2 linked regions of the Homo sapiens genome follow. The protein of the gene in region 1 interacts with the protein of each later gene in a pairwise test. Each region holds a gene or a part of one and is shown in the gene's direction. Other genes may lie near its edges. The genes, in order: VPS13C and TMEM132D.

Evidence for each region.
Region 2: the proteins of VPS13C (region 1) and TMEM132D interact in a two-hybrid assay, tested with the Homo sapiens proteins (one large-scale study listed by BioGRID).

What each region holds. Positions count from the first base shown.
Region 1 is NC_000015.10:61,920,897-61,924,718, reverse strand, and holds part of VPS13C (intermembrane lipid transfer protein VPS13C), read left to right. Parts: intron 1-1,956; coding exon 1,957-2,322; intron 2,323-2,685; coding exon 2,686-2,772; intron 2,773-3,822. UniProt on the Homo sapiens protein: Mediates the transfer of lipids between membranes at organelle contact sites. Necessary for proper mitochondrial function and maintenance of mitochondrial transmembrane potential.
Region 2 is NC_000012.12:129,074,802-129,078,623, reverse strand, and holds part of TMEM132D (transmembrane protein 132D precursor), read left to right. Parts: coding exon 1-90; intron 91-3,548; exon of another isoform or gene 3,549-3,564; coding exon 3,565-3,822. UniProt on the Homo sapiens protein: Regulate neuronals morphology via inhibition of the WAVE regulatory complex (WCR), a complex that controls F-actin cytoskeletal dynamics.

The sequences.
Region 1 (3,822 bases):
CATGTAAATATCAATTTAGTTTTTTCTCAATATTTTAAAATACTGGATAGTCTTAGAATGTATATTGTTAATGGATTTACTTTTAAAAATATATAAAGTAGTAAATGAGGGAAAAACTCCTCGAATTTGCATATTTTAAAGCACTAGGTTAGGTGCTGGTGAGACTTTACATTCTTTGTGTATAAATTTATGATTGATTCAAAAAACGTTTTTGAGCTTTTACTGTGTATTAAAAAAATGTCCTTTACAAGGCATTGGGGATATGTAGCCCCTGCTGTCAAAAAACTTAATGACATATGCGGGAGAAAGAAAGAAATCAGTGATTACAGCTTTCAGTGCTAGAGGCATGGCCAAGATGCAGTTGGGAGCACAGGCATGGGGCCTTTAATTCAGACCAGGACATCAGGGAAAGCTGTGTAGAAGCAGGACTATTTGATTTGAGTTTTGAAGGGAGATTAAATAGATGGGGAGCATGGAAAGGTTTATCCAGACAGAACTGATAATATGCACAAAGGCAGAGGTGTGAAAAAATCCTTTAAGATTTAGAGGGGTGGCCGGGCGCGGTGGCCTCACGCCTGTAATCCCAGCACTTTGGGAGGCCGAGGCGGGCGGATCACGAGGTCAGGAGATCGAGACCATCCCGGCTAAAACGGTGAAACCCCGTCTCTACTAAAAAATACAAAAAATTAGCCGGGCGTAGTGGCGGGCGCCTGTAGTCCCAGCTACTTGGGAGGCTGAGGCAGGAGAATGGCGTGAACCCGGGAGGCGGAGCTTGCAGTGAGCCGAGATCCCGCCACTGCACTCCAGCCTGGGCGACAGAGCGAGACTCCGTCTCAAAAAAAAAAAAAAAAAAAAAAGATTTAGAGGGGTGGTCACATATGGCTGGAGAGAATGGTGTGGTGGCGTTGTAAGACTGGAAGCATTAATTATAAGTGACATTAATAAGACACGGAAAAAAAGTTGACAAGTAAGTTAGGAAAACAATACATACTAGATCCTGCTTTTGATGATATAATTATATCCCTTTACATTTTAAGTAAGGATTGTGAGAAGTGAACAATAAAGGAATACAGTTAACTTATTTAACCTAGTATTTCTCAAACTTTGGGAGAATCCTGGCTAGCTGGTTGAATAGGCACTAGGCCACAAAGAGCTCTGCACATTAAGTTAAAGAGAGTTTCAATTTTATCTTGTGGGATAAAAAAATTATGGGAAGTTGATGAAGATTTTAAACATAAGAATGTCATACTCAGATTTGGTTTGTAGAAAAATTATGCTGGTGGCAGTGTGGAGTGTAGGCTGAGAGGGCGTTGGCCGTAGAAGATGTCATCAGTGTAGAACTAAGGCACAGTAATAGGAAGTGAGGGAAGTGAGCAAAGAAAGGCACTGTCCAAAGATAATAAGAGGTAGGATTTATAGATCTTGGGGTAAGTCAAAGGAGAGCTGTGATTTTGAGTCTTCCAGCTTTAATAAGGCAAATGTATATCTTTTTCTTCCTTTTTTTTTTTTTCAGAAGATCTTGTTGCATACCGATATTTATGTGTATCTTGACAAGGATCACACACTTTGGCTTAGTTAATGTAGCTGTTTTTAAAATGAAGAATTTGTTTACATTGCTATACTTGTCTATTCACATAACACTGTTTTGCTCTGAATTGATCAGCTTAACTTTAGATTTTGACTACTGACATATAACATTAGTTATTTAATTCCAGATAACCTGAGTAGAAGTCAGTGTTGCATGATTACTTGGCTTGACACATAATTTTGTGTTCTCTCTTGTTTTTCTTGGTTACGAATTTATTCAAAATTTAAATTAGTTACTTTAATTTAAAATTAAAATTTAATTTAAAAATGTCACTTATAATTAATGTATGTCACTTAAAATCATGTATGTATATATTCTCATCTGGGAAAGAATTTATTATAAATATTTTTCTGCTTTCTTTTTTAAAGATTTCACCCATAATTCTTAATACTGTGTTGACAATCATGGCTGCATTGTCTCCAAAAACAAAAGAAGATGGATCCAAAGATACGTCTAAGGAAATGGAAAATCTTTGGGGTATCAAATCGATTAATGATTATAACACTTGGTTTCTTGGTGTTGACACGGCAACAGAAATAACGGAAAGCTTCAAAGGCATTGAACATTCACTGATAGAGGAAAATTGTGGTGTTGTTGTAGAATCCATTCAAGTTACCTTAGAATGTGGCCTTGGACATCGAACTGTACCTTTATTATTGGCAGAGTCTAAGTTTTCAGGAAATATTAAAAATTGGACTTCTCTAATGGCTGCTGTTGCTGACGTGACACTACAGGTATGGCCACATCACTTAATACCTTCAGAGACTTCTTGAAAGTGCGATTTTGGAATTAAGATATACACTTTTCTTGTTTGTGCATGGCCACTATGAGTACATATGTGAATAGATAGTGTGTTCTGACATTTAATTTGTCGATGTATTGTTTTTTGATAATTATTTTTTAAAGATTGATTTGCTAAATAATTTATGACAATAGAGTAAGAGAGTAAAGGAAAATACACTCTATATATTGTTAGATGGGTTTTGAAAATGGCTAATGATATATAACATTGATTACTTAATAATTTCCCTATTGGTTACAGAAATATGTAATTAAAGCCAAAGGACTGTCTTATAATTTTGTGTGTATCTTTCCAGGTGCACTATTACAATGAGATCCATGCTGTCTGGGAGCCACTGATTGAGAGAGTGGAGGGGAAGAGACAATGGAATTTAAGGCTTGATGTAAGGAAATCTTAAAATATCTTTGGATAGAATGATACTATGCATATTCATTCATAGTTTTTATTTCAGTGATTCTTAAGATGTGGTCTAGGATCCTTGAAGCCCTTTTAAGGGCTCTGTCCATGAGGTCAGAACTCTTTTCATATGTCATTTTCATTCTCATTCTCTCACGAGTGTATAGTGGAGTTTTCCAGAGACTAATGAAGGTGATACTGCAACAGATTGAATGCAGAACAGAAACGAGAATTTATCTGTCTTCCCTTAAGGCAGGCAGTAAAGAGATATATGTGTATGTTCCTCTTCTCACTGTATTTTTAAAATAGTTATTTTTGATTAAAAATGTTATTTATATTAGCATGTAATTTTTATTTTTAAATGAATTTTTAATTTTTTTTCAGTTTTAATTGTTAATAGAGTACATATTGGTAGATAAAACATAAATGAAGCTCTTTAGTATACTCAGTGATTTTTAAGGGTGAGACCAGAATATTTGAGAATTGTTAATGAACTCTTGTGTGTTATCTTTTTATGTTGTTTTTTGAGAACACCTCAGAAACCTAGATACTGAAGCACATTTTTCTTGATTAAAAGGAACTTGAGTCATATATTGTTAAGAAATTGTCGTAGCATACTTCTTTGGGGCAGCCTTACTAAGGAGTCAGGCACTGAAACTGACTCCACATATTCTTTTGTTAAAGATGAGTCACTTAACCTGTGTTCCAATTTCCTCTCAATAAAGAAGTAATATTTTTCTGACCTGCCTTTCTCTGGCATAGGGAGGCTAACAAAGAATGTTTTACAAGGCTTTTGAAATACTACTAGAACAGAAGCTGATGGAATCTGATGGCTAGTTAAGTGTTTATTATATTAATATTACTTATTTGAAGGTGTTATTGGTTTAAAAAATAGAAGGAGAGAAACATTTCCAGGTGGCACCTCTAATAGGGATCAGTTTAGACTTCAGGGTCCTCTTAGATTGCTCGTCAACACATAATCACCAGTTGGGTGACACTGAATAAATAGCTATGCTCTGAGGAATGCATAAGAGAC
Region 2 (3,822 bases), on another chromosome or scaffold:
CTGTCACTCTCCTTGCAGCTCAGCCCAGGAAGCAACAGGGCCATCTTTGCCACTGCAGTGGCTCAGGAACTTCTGCAGAGGCCAAAACAGGTATGGAGGAGGGCTTGAGACACACTTCAGCAGGGTCCCTCACCAAGTGGATCACACACCAGGCAGGCACCACGCCAGGCGGGTCGCACAATAGAGTGGGATCATATATCGGGCGTTTGTTTCTCCATCTGCAAAGGGCTCTTCTGAAGCAGGTGACTCCTCTGCCTCATGTTTCCCAGCTCCCCCATGCAGAGATGAAAAAAATAAATACATATATACATAAGGATTGCAACATGTGAAAAATGAGAAGCCATTAAGGGGCAGGAGCCCTGGAGGAAAGGCCCACCCCTCATCCACCATAGTGCAAGTGCATGCAGGTGGTCACCTGTGCTCTCCACACGCTTCCTGCTTCCATGAGGGCATGAGGGCACGTGCAGGCTCAGAGCAGGTGCACAGCCTGATGCCAAGGTCCTGCTGGAGCGGAGGGTGACAGACCTGCTGAGTGGGGAGCCTGTGGCGGGAGATCGCTTCCAGACCATTCATTGTTCAGCTCAAGGCAGAAACAGAGAATTCATGGAGATGTCAGTCACAATTTTCTTTTACTTTATTTGGAACCAGTGTGAGCTAATAGAGTGTGTTTTGTGTGTTGTGTGCATATGTATATGTGTGTTGTGTGTCTATGTGTTGTGTACATATATGTTGTTTTTGTGTGTCTGTGTATGCATGTGTGTGTCTTGTGTCAGTATTTTGTGTTGCTTGTTTTGTGTTGTGTGTTGCATGTGTGCTTGTGTTGTATAGGCACCTGTATGCATGTATATATGTGTGTTGTGAATGTATCGTGTGTTGTATGTATGCATTGCATGTGTCTATTTGTTGTTTGTATGTGTGCATATGTGTGTGTGTTGTGGGTCTGTGTCATATATGTTTTTGCTTTATGTGTGTCCGTATGCATGTGTGTCTTGTGTATTTTCTGTTGTGTGTATGCTTGTGTTGTATAGGTGCCTGTGTGCATGTATATGTGTATGTGTGTTGTGTGTATGTGTGTGATGCATGTGTTTGTATGTGGATACAATGGCTTACAAAGGGGACTGTTATAGGGGACCTTTGAATGTAGTAAGTTCTCCCTCATTAGAGGTGGATAAACATTATTTCTTAGAACATAGGAATTTGGGTGAAGCTTGCTTAATAACAAAACATGGTGGTTGCAGGTCATTAGTTCTTTTGCCCCATGAAAAGGGATCATCCTCATGTGGGGCAGCTGGAATCCCTCCGGCCCATATGGGACATTGTTCTGACTGCTTCCCTTCTGGATCAGGAGCCTTTTCTGCGCACTCTTCCTCGGCAGGGTGAGGTACCAGGCCTTCCCTGCCTTCATGCACCAGCTGCGGCTGTGGCCATGTTCAGAGGAGGCAGGAGTGCCACACTGGACTTGCTAAGGGGCACAAAGAGCCTTCCCATTTTCCCAGCCTGCACCTGTCACATAATGCTCCCCTCTCAGGCATGAGCTAATCTCCTAGTCCTTATACTACAGTCTTTGTTTGCAGAGTTTTGGGTTAGAAAACACTTGAAAGTGGTTGATCCCAATAACAGAATCGAATTCTTGGCCAAAGCAAACCTCCTTTTCTCAAGGAAGGATGCCAGCCGAGAGGCAAGTTACAGATAGCAATGAAGAAATAACCTGAGGCTTTTCTCTGTCTTTGTGGGTGATAACATCAGCGGACCACCAGCTAGGCGTTAAGGAAGGGATAAGATGCAGCTAGAAGAAGGCCAGAAGGCTAATCCGTTCCTGACATGCAGAGCTAAACACGCTACCCTGAGATTTGCTCCATGGTTGGTTTGCAGGGCTCTTACTCCCTGCCTGCAACTTGGCTCTGACAGTGGTAGTTTCAAGAACTCCGTTGTGCGTTTGAATGCTCTGCTCAGATTTCATGGCCGATTGAGAGAACCTGGTAAGTCAGTGTCATGTCCAGTAGCTTTTGCACTGTGCCTTGGCAAGGTTATCCGCTTAGCAGGTAGTCCAAGCCAGTGTCTAACAGAATAAGTATTTCTTGGCTGAGCTGAAGGAAAGAGCAGAGGCCACCAGCCACATTTGAGGAGACTTTCTTCTTACTTCCAAAGACTAAACAACAACTGTGTAAAATTACTTCTGTCATGGTCAGGGGCCAGTAGGTCATAAGAGAAAAAAAAATCCACTCAAGCAAAAGCTTAAATAACAAAGGATGTGTTATGAGGATTATAGGGATCTCACAGAACCCAGCTGCAAGACCTTGGAGGAAAGGGAAGGTCAGCACTTTCATGCCCACTCTCTCTCTCACCTGTGTTTTTATTTTGGTCTAATTCATTATTGTCTTCCTATGGATAAATGCCATGCCCAAACATTTGCTTATACATAGTCCATCAGAGGGCTTCATTCCCCAATTTTATATGTGCCCCCACTACACATCTTCCCAAGCATAACTTTGTCAGTCTTGTCTTTCTGGTTTCAAGTTCGAGAGAGAGAGAGTAATGCTGGCTGGCTCAGCATTGCTGAGATTGATGGCTCTAATGGCAGCAGCTGTCTCATTTCAATCAGCTGTTGCTGTGGCCCAGCGGGCAGGGTCATGGGCCACCTAGTGCTGTTCATCATCTCGGGCTTGGGGCGGAGCAGGTTCTCTGAGAGGGAGGGAGGGAGGGAGGAAGCAATGGATCTGCCACTGCTGTCAAGCATAATGTCATCTTCACTAAAATTAAAGGCTGGCATGAAATTGGAGGTTATCTCCAATGATCTGCCTGGTCAAACTATTTGCAAAGAAAGTTGGTCTAAATCAACAAAGTGAAAACAAGCTCTGGCTGCTTTTTGGTCTTCCAGTTTCCTCCAGTTGGGTTGGGTGGAGGAAGAGATGAAGACTCTCCAATCAAGATGCTTCTCCCTCTCCTGCTGTCAGGCTTAACTCCTCCCTCCAAGCCAAGACTATGGCCTGAGGCCAGGACAGATCCACTCCTGCAGACCCAGAAAAGGCAGGGCTGGCAAAACCACAGCCTGCAGCCCTGCAGTGGGACCTCATCTAGATCAGAGGCTTTTATCTGTATTGCCAGTAATCAGTGGAGACTCAGTATTACAACTTAAAAATAATGTAATAAATATTTTTCATTTGAATGTGTAACACTTGTAAATGATTCCACTAACCAGTAATTTCCTTTGTCGTGCAATTTATTATTGTTCAGAAGTTGATTCTGAACAGCCCAAGGGCCCATCTTCCTTTTATAACAACACCTACAGGAGAAAAAAAAAAAAAGCAAATCTTCTTACGGATTGTTTAATACTGGCCCTGTTTTGTCATTTTGTTGTTGTTTTATTTTGCTTTTTTGCATCTTTGTGAGAATTCATTTTCTTTTATACTCTTGGTACTTCTTATCGCTTATTTCTACACTGTTTGAAAGGTTTGTCTTTGTTCTTGTAGCAATAGTTTTGCCGTTGTGTGTCTACTGTACTAAGACTTGGGGCTCAATGAGCTTTTTGGCCCATTTGATTAACTTACATATTTTTCTCCATAGGAAGCAGCCATCAGTTGCTGGGTCCAGTTCAGTGATGGCTCAGTCACGCCCTTGGATATTTACGATGGGAAAGACTTCTCCTTGATGGCCACATCTTTGGATGAGAAGGTAGTCTCCATCCACCAAGACCCCAAATTCAAGTGGCCTATCATTGCTGCGGAAACAGAAGGACAAGGCACCCTGGTCAAGGTGGAAATGGTTATTAGTGAATCCTGCCAGAAATCCAAGCGGAAGAGTGTGTTAGCTGTTGGAACGGCA